3 separate regions of the Homo sapiens genome follow, and all the other regions are reported to be linked to region 2. Evidence: microRNA targets listed by miRTarBase, many of them from high-throughput screens and not tested one by one. Region 2 holds a microRNA gene; each other region holds the end of a gene's coding sequence.
The links. Region 2 holds the annotated microRNA hsa-miR-495-5p (GAAGUUGCCCAUGUUAUUUUCG, at 2,328-2,349, shown strand). A microRNA usually pairs through its seed, bases 2 to 8, with sites in the 3' UTR of a target mRNA and lowers its output. Matches are read on the target gene's strand: a 7mer-m8 pairs with bases 2 to 8, a 7mer-A1 pairs with bases 2 to 7 and ends in A, and an 8mer does both.

Region 1 (3,259 bases), not on the chromosome of region 2:
TTCTTACAAGACCTTGCTTTAATGATTGACATTCTTGAAGAATTTTCAGTACTTTCAACTGCATTACAGTCAAGATCAACTAATATTAAGAAAGCACAAAAATTGATCAAACGTACCATAAGAGCTTTGGAAAATTTAAAAATTGGTACTGGAAAGTATGAATCTCAAATTGAAGATTTGATCAAGTCAGATAAGTTTAAAGATATTCCATTTAATAAAAACAATAAATTTAATGCTCTTCCTAGGAGTATATTACTAGACAATATAATTCAGCACATGAACCTACGCCTTTTATCTGACAGAAACCATGAAGATATTTTTAATTACTTTGATTTGCTGGAACCTTCCACATGGCCTTATGAAGAAATAACTTCACCATGGATAGCTGGTGAAAAAACATTATTTCATTTGTGTAAAATTTTAAAATATGAAGTTGATTTGAATGATTTTCGGGAATTTGTAAATAATAATATAAAATCAAACAATGTTTCAATTCCTACAACTATATACAAAGCTAAAAAGATAGTTAGCACCATTGCAATCAATAGTGCTGAAGCTGAAAGGGGTTTCAATTTAATGAACATAATTTGTACAAGGGTGAGAAATAGTTTAACAATAGATCATGTATCAGATTTAATGACAATAAATTTACTGGGGAAAGAATTAGCAGATTGGGATGCAACACCGTTTGTAAAATCTTGGTCAAATTGCAACCACAGGTTGGCTACAGATACAAGAGTTCGGCAAAAGTCAACAAAAGTCTTCCATGAGAATCAATTGGCTATATGGAACTTAAAATAGAATATTGTATACGTTTTTTGTCATCTGTAAATTATGTACTACACATCCTTTATATACATAAAGGTCTTTTTTTTTTTTGGAAAGCCAGTTAAACTTTTATCAGCATGTTGCTGTTTAAAAGGCGTTCTTTAAGAAGATAATCTTGAAGATTGGTTTTAGAAGCTATAGTTTTTTAGAGATTGGCCCATGTTTGCTAGAGTGGGTCATAATACATATTCCATGAAGTTCTGTACAGAACAAACACCGTTTATAATTTTGTACTGTTTTACTTTAAGTAAGGATGCAAAAAATAGCAGGACTCAGCTAAGTTCTAAGCCCTGGAGGTTATATTAAATAAAAGAGAAATGGAATAAAAACTGTAAGCCTTTTGGCTCTTGTCTTTCTCATTTCCATATCTGTGCTATCTAGTATGGTAGCCACTAGCTACATGTGGCTGATCAGCTTAGGGCTAAAAGTAAAATTTTTATTTATTTACTTTTACTTAAATATGAAAACTGAAACAATGTGAAATATTTTTCTGCTTAGCTTTACTGTTTTTCAGTAATACATTTTACTCTGTTACCTTGCATAAGATATGGTTGTTGTAGTGTGCCTGTCAAACTTGTGTGTCATTTCCAATATTGAATATAAACATATTGCTGATAGATATGATACTGCTGTCAGCAGATGGATTCAATGCAAGTTATTTTTTCTACAAATTGATGTAACATCATGTTTATCTGAATATTTTATGCAGACAACAGGAATTACAGTGATTCCTGTGTAAATTATAACTGGTAATTGAAATACTTATTTTAATCATGATTAAATTATTTTTCTAGTTTACACATGAATATGAGCAAATTTTTAAATTTAAAATGAAGGCATACTGAAAAAGAATCAAGTGGCGATGCAGAACCTAGTACAACTGGAACAGTAAACAGACTCAAAGAAGGTATGTTGCAGATTTGACAATGAATGGCAATTGCAGTTTGCTGTGGCAGAGCAAAACAAGCTGCTATTTAAGAAACAAAGTAGGAAAATTGAGACTTCAGCAGATGCAAAATGAATTGGGTAAATTATATTTCATATGCCAAAAAGAATCAATGAAATTTAGTCACCTAAAATCAGAATTAACAAGAGTTTTTAAAAACAATTTTAGAAGGAACTAAGGTTGTAAGTTTGGCCAGATGTGAAATAGCTGAGATTCTTTTTTTTTTTCCCGAGACAGAGTCTTGTGGTGTCACCCAGGCTGGAGTGCAATGGCGCAATCTTGGCTCACTGCAACCTCCACTTCCTGGGTTCAAGTGATTCTCCTGCCTCAGCCTCCCGAGTAGCTAGGATTACAGGAGTGTGCCACGACGCCTGCCTAATTTTTTTTTTTTGAGACAGAGTCTTGTGTCACCCAGGCTGGAGTACAGTGGTGCAATCTCGGCTCACTGCAACTTCCACCTTCTGGGTTCAAGCAGTTCTCCTGCCTCAGCCTCCCAAGTAGCTGGGATTACAGGTGTCTGCCACCATGCCCAGCTAATTTTTTTGTATTTTTTATAGAGACGGGGTTCCACCTTGTTGGCCAGGCTGGTCTCAAACTCCTGACCTCAGGTGATGCGCCTGCCTCAGCCTCCCAAAGTACTAGGATTACAGGAGTGAGCCACCATGCTCAGCAAAATAGCTGAGATTCTTGCATGAAAGAATTAGGGTTTTTTTTTTTTTTGGATGGGAGAGGGGAGGGTCCTGCTATGTCACCCAAGCTGGACTGCAGTGGCTCACTGCAGCCTCTTCCTCCTGGGCCCAAGCAGTCCTCCCACCTCAGCCCCCTAAGTAGCTGGGAATACAGGTACATGCCACCACACCCAGCTAGTTTTTATATCTTTTTGTAGAGATGGGGTTTTGCCATGTTGCCCAGGTTGGTATTGGACTCCTGGGCTCAAACAGCCTTCCTGCCTTGGCCTCCCAAAGTGCTGGGATTATAGGCATGAACCACCATGCCTGGCTGAGAACTAGTTTTAAATGGATAAATGTGAAATTATTTCAGTTGAAGAAATTGTTAGAAAATTATGAATAAAAGCCTAAATAAGATGTTTTATTAAAAATTACAAGGCCTTGCTGGGTGCTGTGGCTCATGCCTGTAATCCCAGCACTTTGGGAGGCCGAGGCAGGTGGATCATGAGGTTAGGAGATCGAAACCATCCTAGCTAATATGGTGAAACCCCATCTCTACTAAAAATACAAAAAATTAGCTGGGCCTGGTGGCATGCACCTGTAGTCCCAGCTACTCGGGAGGCTAGGGCAGGAGAATCGCTTGAACACAGGAGGCGGAGGTTGCAGTGAGCAGAGATCACACCACTGAACTCCAGCCTGGGCGACAGAGCGAGACTTTGTCTCAGAAAAAAAAAAAAAGTACAAGGCCTTTAGTTAAGCACCAAACAATTGCTATTAGAATATAGGACCTAGCAATATTAAAGATTAATTGATTCTA
Region 2 (3,259 bases):
CTTCTCCGGCTCAGGCTGATCGACAGTGGTGACGCTGTGCCAGGACCCCTGGTCATTCCATCTGTTTGAGGCAAATGTTAAAAAATCCCTTGCGCTACCCATTCTATGACGACTCCCTTGGCTCAGAGGCTCCATCAGGGCAGACACTTTGCTGTTTGTCCCTAAAGGGTGGGTGGTAGATCTCATCCATCTTATCTGGGGAGTTATTGTGACTCTCCTGGTCCCTCCTCATGTATCCTCAGGAGGACTTTTAGGATGCAAAATCACTGTTTCTGTGCCATTGTCATATTCTGTGCTACTGGAGGAGACTTTTTGTTATTGAGAAATTGAACACATCGTGCTCACAAGCAGCTCCAGGACACAATGCCACCTGTGCAGAGGGGGCAGACCTGTTAGATGTCTCCCAGGTCTTGAGGGGGTTGTATGCACGGCCATATCTTTGTCACCGGTTGCCCGGTGCGCATCAGGACCCATGTGCTCTCAGGAAGCCCGCAGGAGTGATACCAGCCGCGGAGAAGCAGTGTTGTCAACGGTGCTGACGTGCGGTACTTAATGAGAAGTTGCCCGTGTTTTTTTCGCTTTATTTGTGACGAAACATTCGCGGTGCACTTCTTTTTCAGTATCCTATTCTGCCTTGAAGACGTCTTGGTTTGGGTGCAACTTCAGGGAAGGCACATGGGCCCCTGTAGTGGACGCTGATCAGGACCTCCCTACCCCATGTCTTTTCTCCTTCCTAAATTTCTCCTTGTTTTTTTTTTTTTTTTTTTTTTTTATGAAAGCTCCCGTCTTCCCGCCGTGTGCTTTGATTGCATTGACCCTGCCCCACTTCCTCCACCAGCCCAGGCTTAAGCGAATCTCTTGATCTCTTCTCCTTTGCCACTGCAATTGCTTCCGGAATAGGCCCATGACCCCACTGGGCCAGTGATAGGCAAGGAGATGCTTGCTGCAGCTTCTGGGAAAGAAACTGTTTCTCCCTTTCCTGTGATAGCTGCCAGAGTAGACACTGTCTATTCCATTCAGCTGGGAATAGACAGTGAACTTTGACGTGAGCTTCGAAGGTCCCACAGCCGTTTAAGGACTGAGAGGAGAGGGCTTGGTGCCACGCAGACACAGCAGAGGGAGTCTGTACCATGAAAGGCATCTTGGAGACCTAGAGAAGAGCCTGGATGATATCATTTGAGTCCCTAGATCAAACCCTGCCTGAAGCTTGCTCTGTCTCTGTACTTTTTAGTTATATACGTCTATAAATCCCTTACTTGTTTAAGCCAGTTGGAGTTAGATCTTATCTTACTTGCAATACAAACAGATGATACCACAGTGTGTTTTCCAGTGTGACTGGGAAAGCCTGCATTTTTTTCAATGATGTGTTTCTCACGGTTTGCCTATCTATCTTCAGTGTCCTATTTAAGGCAGGGTTTTGGTGGAAGGTGACTTTTCTTATGGACTTATGCTTTCAAAGCTTTGTCTTAGTGATTTAATTTATGGTTGACAAATGATGCACAATTACCGTGTTTTGTGTCCAGCAATGGGTCACTGGGTCCTCTCTGGAAGGCCTGATGGATGGTGGGCCCCAGAACTTCTGCCCCGATTCACTCTCCCTCGAATCCACCTCTCTCTGGGAGGCTGCCCTGCAAGTGATGTGGACTTGGGGAAGCCGTTGTCCTTTCCTGGCCCCTGCTGTCCTTTGGCTCTCTGTGGGTTGGCTGTATTTGTCACAACTCACACTTAACTGTCAGTGTTTTAGAACCAAGCCATGCCTCCAGGGAACCCGGAGCACTTTAGAGAGGAGGTGCAGTGGTCAGCACCATGCAAGGTGCACAGAGAGATGGGTCCACCGAGAGCCGGGGCTGCCTTGGTGGTTTGTTTCTCCTGATTCGATATCTTTGTCTTCCCATCTCCTTCCTGGAACCATGGGCTCATGGAGGAGATTCTATTTTTGGGTCCAGGACCATCCCATTTTCTCTGAAGTGATGCTCTCCATGAGCATTTGCAGGGTTGATAGTAAACATTCCGAAAGCCGTCTGCCCTGATTATTGAATTCTGCCCATGAAGACTTCCTGGGATCCCGAAGTAGAGGGAGTCTGGGATCGGTTTGCTTTATCCGTGATGACTGTCCGCCTCTGCTCAGTGTCAGCCCAGCCCTTCGAAGCATGTCCCCCACCTCCCCTGGGGTGAGCCAACTTACCTGATGCTTTTAGGCTTAATTGAGCATAAGTTTGATTGGCAGCGTCTGCCCGGCCCTGCCCTCACGCCCTGACCCTCAGTGTCCCTTCACGCCCAGGTGTGCCTCTGGCAGGGAGGACGTGCTCATCTCTGGTACCTGAAAAGAAGTTGCCCATGTTATTTTCGCTTTATATGTGACGAAACAAACATGGTGCACTTCTTTTTCGGTATCAAATATCTCCTTGAAGTGCCTCCATCCCCGACGGGACCCTGAGCATGGGACCTGGTGTCACTACCTCTCTTGGTATGTACATGGAGGATTTGTCCTGGCAGCCCCTCGGTGACTTTGTGTGTTGGTGGGCTCAGGGACCATGCTCAGTCCTCAGTCCTCAGTCCACGCCCACCTCTCGGACAGGCACAGTTGGCGAGGCCTCAACCACATGCCAGTTCCCCGCTGCCAGGGAGGCTGGGGAGATGCACTTCCAGGCTCCATTGAGAAGCGTTCCCCAACATTTGAGAAGAGTTCAGATCATAGCAGCCAAGAAAAAAATAAAAAAGGAAGCAGCTGCCACAACAACAAAAACAAATAAGCAATGAAGACCCCTGCCCCCATCCGCTCTCTCCAGAGGCTTGAGGGGATGGCTGAAGGGGACATGAGGACATGCCATCTGGGGGACTGCCACCCGCACCTCCACAGAAGAATTGATTGGGGGTAGCAATTGTGGCAGAAGGCGTCCCTGTGGTTCTGGGAGATGGGATTTCTCAGAGTGGTGATTTACTGGAGCCTAATCCTCCCTGCCCCGCTCTTTCTTTACTTTTCTTTTCTTTTTTTCTTTCTTTTTTTTTTGACACAGAGTCTCGCACTGTCTCCTGGGCTGGAGTGCAATGGCACGATCTTGGCTCACTGTAACCTCTGCCTCCCAGGTTCAAGCGATTCTCTTGCCTCAGCCTTCCAAGTAGCTGGGATTACAGGCGCCCGCCACCAGGCCCAGCTAATTTTTTGTATTTTTAGCAGAGACGGGGTTTCACCATGTTGGCCAGGCTGGTCTTGAACTCCTGACCTCATGATCCACACCCACCTTGGCCTCCCAAAGTG
Region 3 (3,259 bases), not on the chromosome of region 2:
ATGGCACAACCACAACAGAGTGCAGTGTGATAACAATACAGAGTCAACTAAGATTAAAAATTGGTCTACTAAGACTTTAGATATAATACGTTTTATTCATCTAGTGGTACTTGGTGCTCACAGGGCACTGTACAACAAATTTTAAAAATACAATATGAAAAAAATCAAACAGCCAGAGATCAATTCCATTAGAGGGCGATGGCCCACAGAAAAACCAACAAAGGCCCACAGAAAAACCCACCCTGTCTCCTTAAGAACATTTCTTTGTTTGGCTTTAAGAAACACCAAAAGAAAATACAAAAGAAAAGGTCTTTGAGAAGATAGGTAAAACTTCACATAGCGTCTTCCACATATCACAAAATGCTTTCCTTATTTAATAATAAGCACATAAAATAATCCAAATATCTGTGAGCCTCTATTTGGTCCCAATGTTTTAGGTCATAGCTTTCACTACTTCCCTCCTCTCTATCCTCAAATTATTTGCATCAGTAAAAAAAGTTAATTAAGGTGTAACAGTCTCCTTTGCTCCACAATGCCACTACAAAGCCTATTTTCCATAAAGAACCAGAGGCCAAGCAAACGTAGGCTACTAAGTACTTGAATTGAAAATACAACTAAAATTTCCTGAGTCATTTAACATCAAATTTTGGCTTTGTAATCTATTTGTATTCAATTCTCAGTCATTACTGAAGGTCATTTGACATCAACCATAGAGAGCAGTGAGATTTAAAGTTGCATGGAAGTACCGCTGAAAACTTCTAACAACAGAAAGATGAGTTTGGAGTGTTTAATTTTACTACATAGTGACATATATTCAGAAAGTTGTCATACAAGGAATGATGAGGAGTTACAAATCCAACTTGGAAACCCTTAATGCTCACTATCAATTTGTTGAAAGTCAATTTTTTTTTTTTTTTTGAGACGGAGTCTCTGTCGCCCAGGCTGGAGTGTAGCAGCGCTATCTCGGCTCACTGCAAGCTCCGCCTCCCGGGTTCAAGCCATTCTCCTGCCTCAGCCTCCCTAGTAGCTGGGACTACAGGCGCCCGCCACCACGCCTGGCTAATTTTTGTATTTTTAGTAGACGGGACTTCACCGCGTTAGCCAGGATGGTCTCGATCTCCTGACCTCGTGATCCGCCCGCCTCAGCCTCCCAAAGTGCTGGGATTACAGGCATGAGCCACCACACCCGGCCACAAGCTGTTTCTTAACTAAGCTTCTGAAGCAGGAACTCCTAAAGTGTCAATAGGCAGTTTTACTTACAGTAGTAGTTATATACTAATGCTGCTTGCAGAATTTTTTTTCCCTTTAGAGTTCACAGAAGTACTACCACATGGAGACAAAACAAAACAGTAAAAATAGTATAGGTAGTAAAAAGGCCAAAACTAAGAAATTTGGGGCCATAACATTAGAAAAGTTTGAAAATATACTTTACATATTTGCTTAAAAAATTAAGTGTAGTACTGCCTTAATGCTTGGTTCCTCTACCATTAAATGGCATTTCATTCAGTTTATGCTGAACTCTTAGATCAACTTATTATTACTGAATACAAAGCTAAGCAAACCTAGACATTTTAGCTGCTGCCACTGTGTATTATCACAGTACATAAGGAATCTGTCACAAGGTTTGTCTCCCCTTCTCCATTATACTGTTCTTAAAGGTAGAGGGCAGGTCTCATGCACCTTTGCATCCCCTGCATATAAGCACAGTGGCTGGCATACAGTGGGTGAATAGGTATTTACTGATGCATTGCTGAGTAGTGGCTTATAACATGGAGAAAAGCCCAACATTGTCCTGTTCTATCAGCATTACTTAGGTATCCTCACTCCTAATAGGCAGAAAGCAGTTTTGAAGTAAAGTTAAATTCCTCACTTGCTAAACACAGCAGACCTGTCAAGTGTTGGACAAGACTTAAACCACTTTCTTTAAATGTGTTCATAAAGCATTTTGAGAAATCAAGAGATGAAAGGCGCTATGTAAGTACAAAATATTCAAGACAGTTTAGCAAAAGTGCTACTTTTCTACGATGATGGAATGGTTGTGCTAGTTTGAGGGGAACATCCCCTGAGGCTACTCTTCTTGCTGTCATTATTAACACAACAATGGAATTTTGACAAAGATGCCATCACTTTATATAGTTTTTATTCAGCTAACTACTTTCTATAAACCATGTGACAGAAAATGAAATTAAGCCACTTATTCCACATAAACCAATACTTTATCAAAGTTCCGCATTTTACAAGTCATGTTCAAAAAACACACACAAATTAGCATTTTGTACACAAATGTTTATTTCTCAATTAAACATTCCCTTTAAACACAAGGAATGAGTTCTAAATCTTCATAAAGATGAATTAAAAATGAAATCCCTCCAGTATAGTGTATATAATCACTGTGTTCTTGGTCACTACTGGCATTTACTGTTTAACATCAAAAACAAAGACAGGTTATTTAAAAATCATGCTACTGGATTTCTAGCTCTTCCTCTATGACCAGTTCTACACTGATCTGCAATGTTTAAAAGTTTACATCACCAAATCAAAGCAAGTTTAAGGTGTGAAGTAGCTGTGCATTAAACACAAAATAAACAATAAAATTATAAGATATAGTCAAGTTCATAACGAATATAGGTGTTCTTATCATCGTTGTAGATTCTTGGGTAATGTGCTATGAGAGCGTCCTGGGAACCAATGTAGATGGAGTTGTAAATTTTCCAATATACATCTCTGACTTTCCGGGCTGGGTGAAACAGACCCTAAAATAATTGAACGGTTACATTATTTCAATTTTTAAGAACATACATAACCTTAACAAAATTAAGAAAACATAAAGATATGATTCAAAATTATTTCCCTTGGGGAGTTGGGGGGGGGGGAACCTACTAATTACACTGCTCTTAAGCTGCAATGGAAGAGACAAAACTCACTCCCCTGTCACCACACAATTGTTCTACCATATGGCACAATATACCCTAATGATAATCAGGAAAAGTAACTTAATTCAATACACTACTTTTCTTGCTAAGTAATCTTTTAAAAATCTTTAACTTACAGGCAGTGGGGGGAAAGGGGAGGGAGAGCATTAGGACAAATACCTAATGCATGCAGGGCTTAAAACCTAGATGACAGGTTGATAGGTGCAGCAAACCACCATGGCACATATATACCTATGTAACAAACCTGCACGTTCAGCACAAGTATCCCAGAACTTAAAGTATTATTTAAAAAAAAAAAATCACCGATTAAAAAAAAAATCTTTAAC

Region 1: miRTarBase lists KIAA1586 as a target of hsa-miR-495-5p. The part of its 3' UTR that is shown has no 7-base or 8-base seed match.
Region 3: the mRNA of SF3B1 is a reported target of hsa-miR-495-5p. Seed matches in the 3' UTR shown: 7mer-m8 at 730-736.

The regions. Positions count from the first base shown.
Region 1 is chr6:57,054,063-57,057,321 of GRCh38, forward strand. It overlaps KIAA1586, which reads left to right. Exons shown (of 4, transcript NM_020931.4): 4 at 1-1,163. The coding sequence ends at 801. Among named protein-coding and RNA genes, the nearest start is that of KIAA1586, 9.0 kb to the left of the region's middle.
Region 2 is chr14:101,031,441-101,034,699 of GRCh38, forward strand. MIR495 (microRNA 495) reads left to right here and starts at 2,315; the gene lies at 2,315-2,396. It overlaps LOC124903407 (mucin-2-like), which reads left to right. Exons shown (of 5, transcript XM_047432049.1): 5 at 1-3,042. It overlaps MIR543 (microRNA 543), which reads left to right and starts at 547; the gene lies at 547-624.
Region 3 is chr2:197,389,709-197,392,967 of GRCh38, forward strand. It overlaps SF3B1 (splicing factor 3b subunit 1), which reads right to left. Exons shown (of 25, transcript NM_012433.4): 25 at 76-2,753. The coding sequence ends at 2,595. Among named protein-coding and RNA genes, the nearest start is that of SF3B1, 44 kb to the right of the region's middle.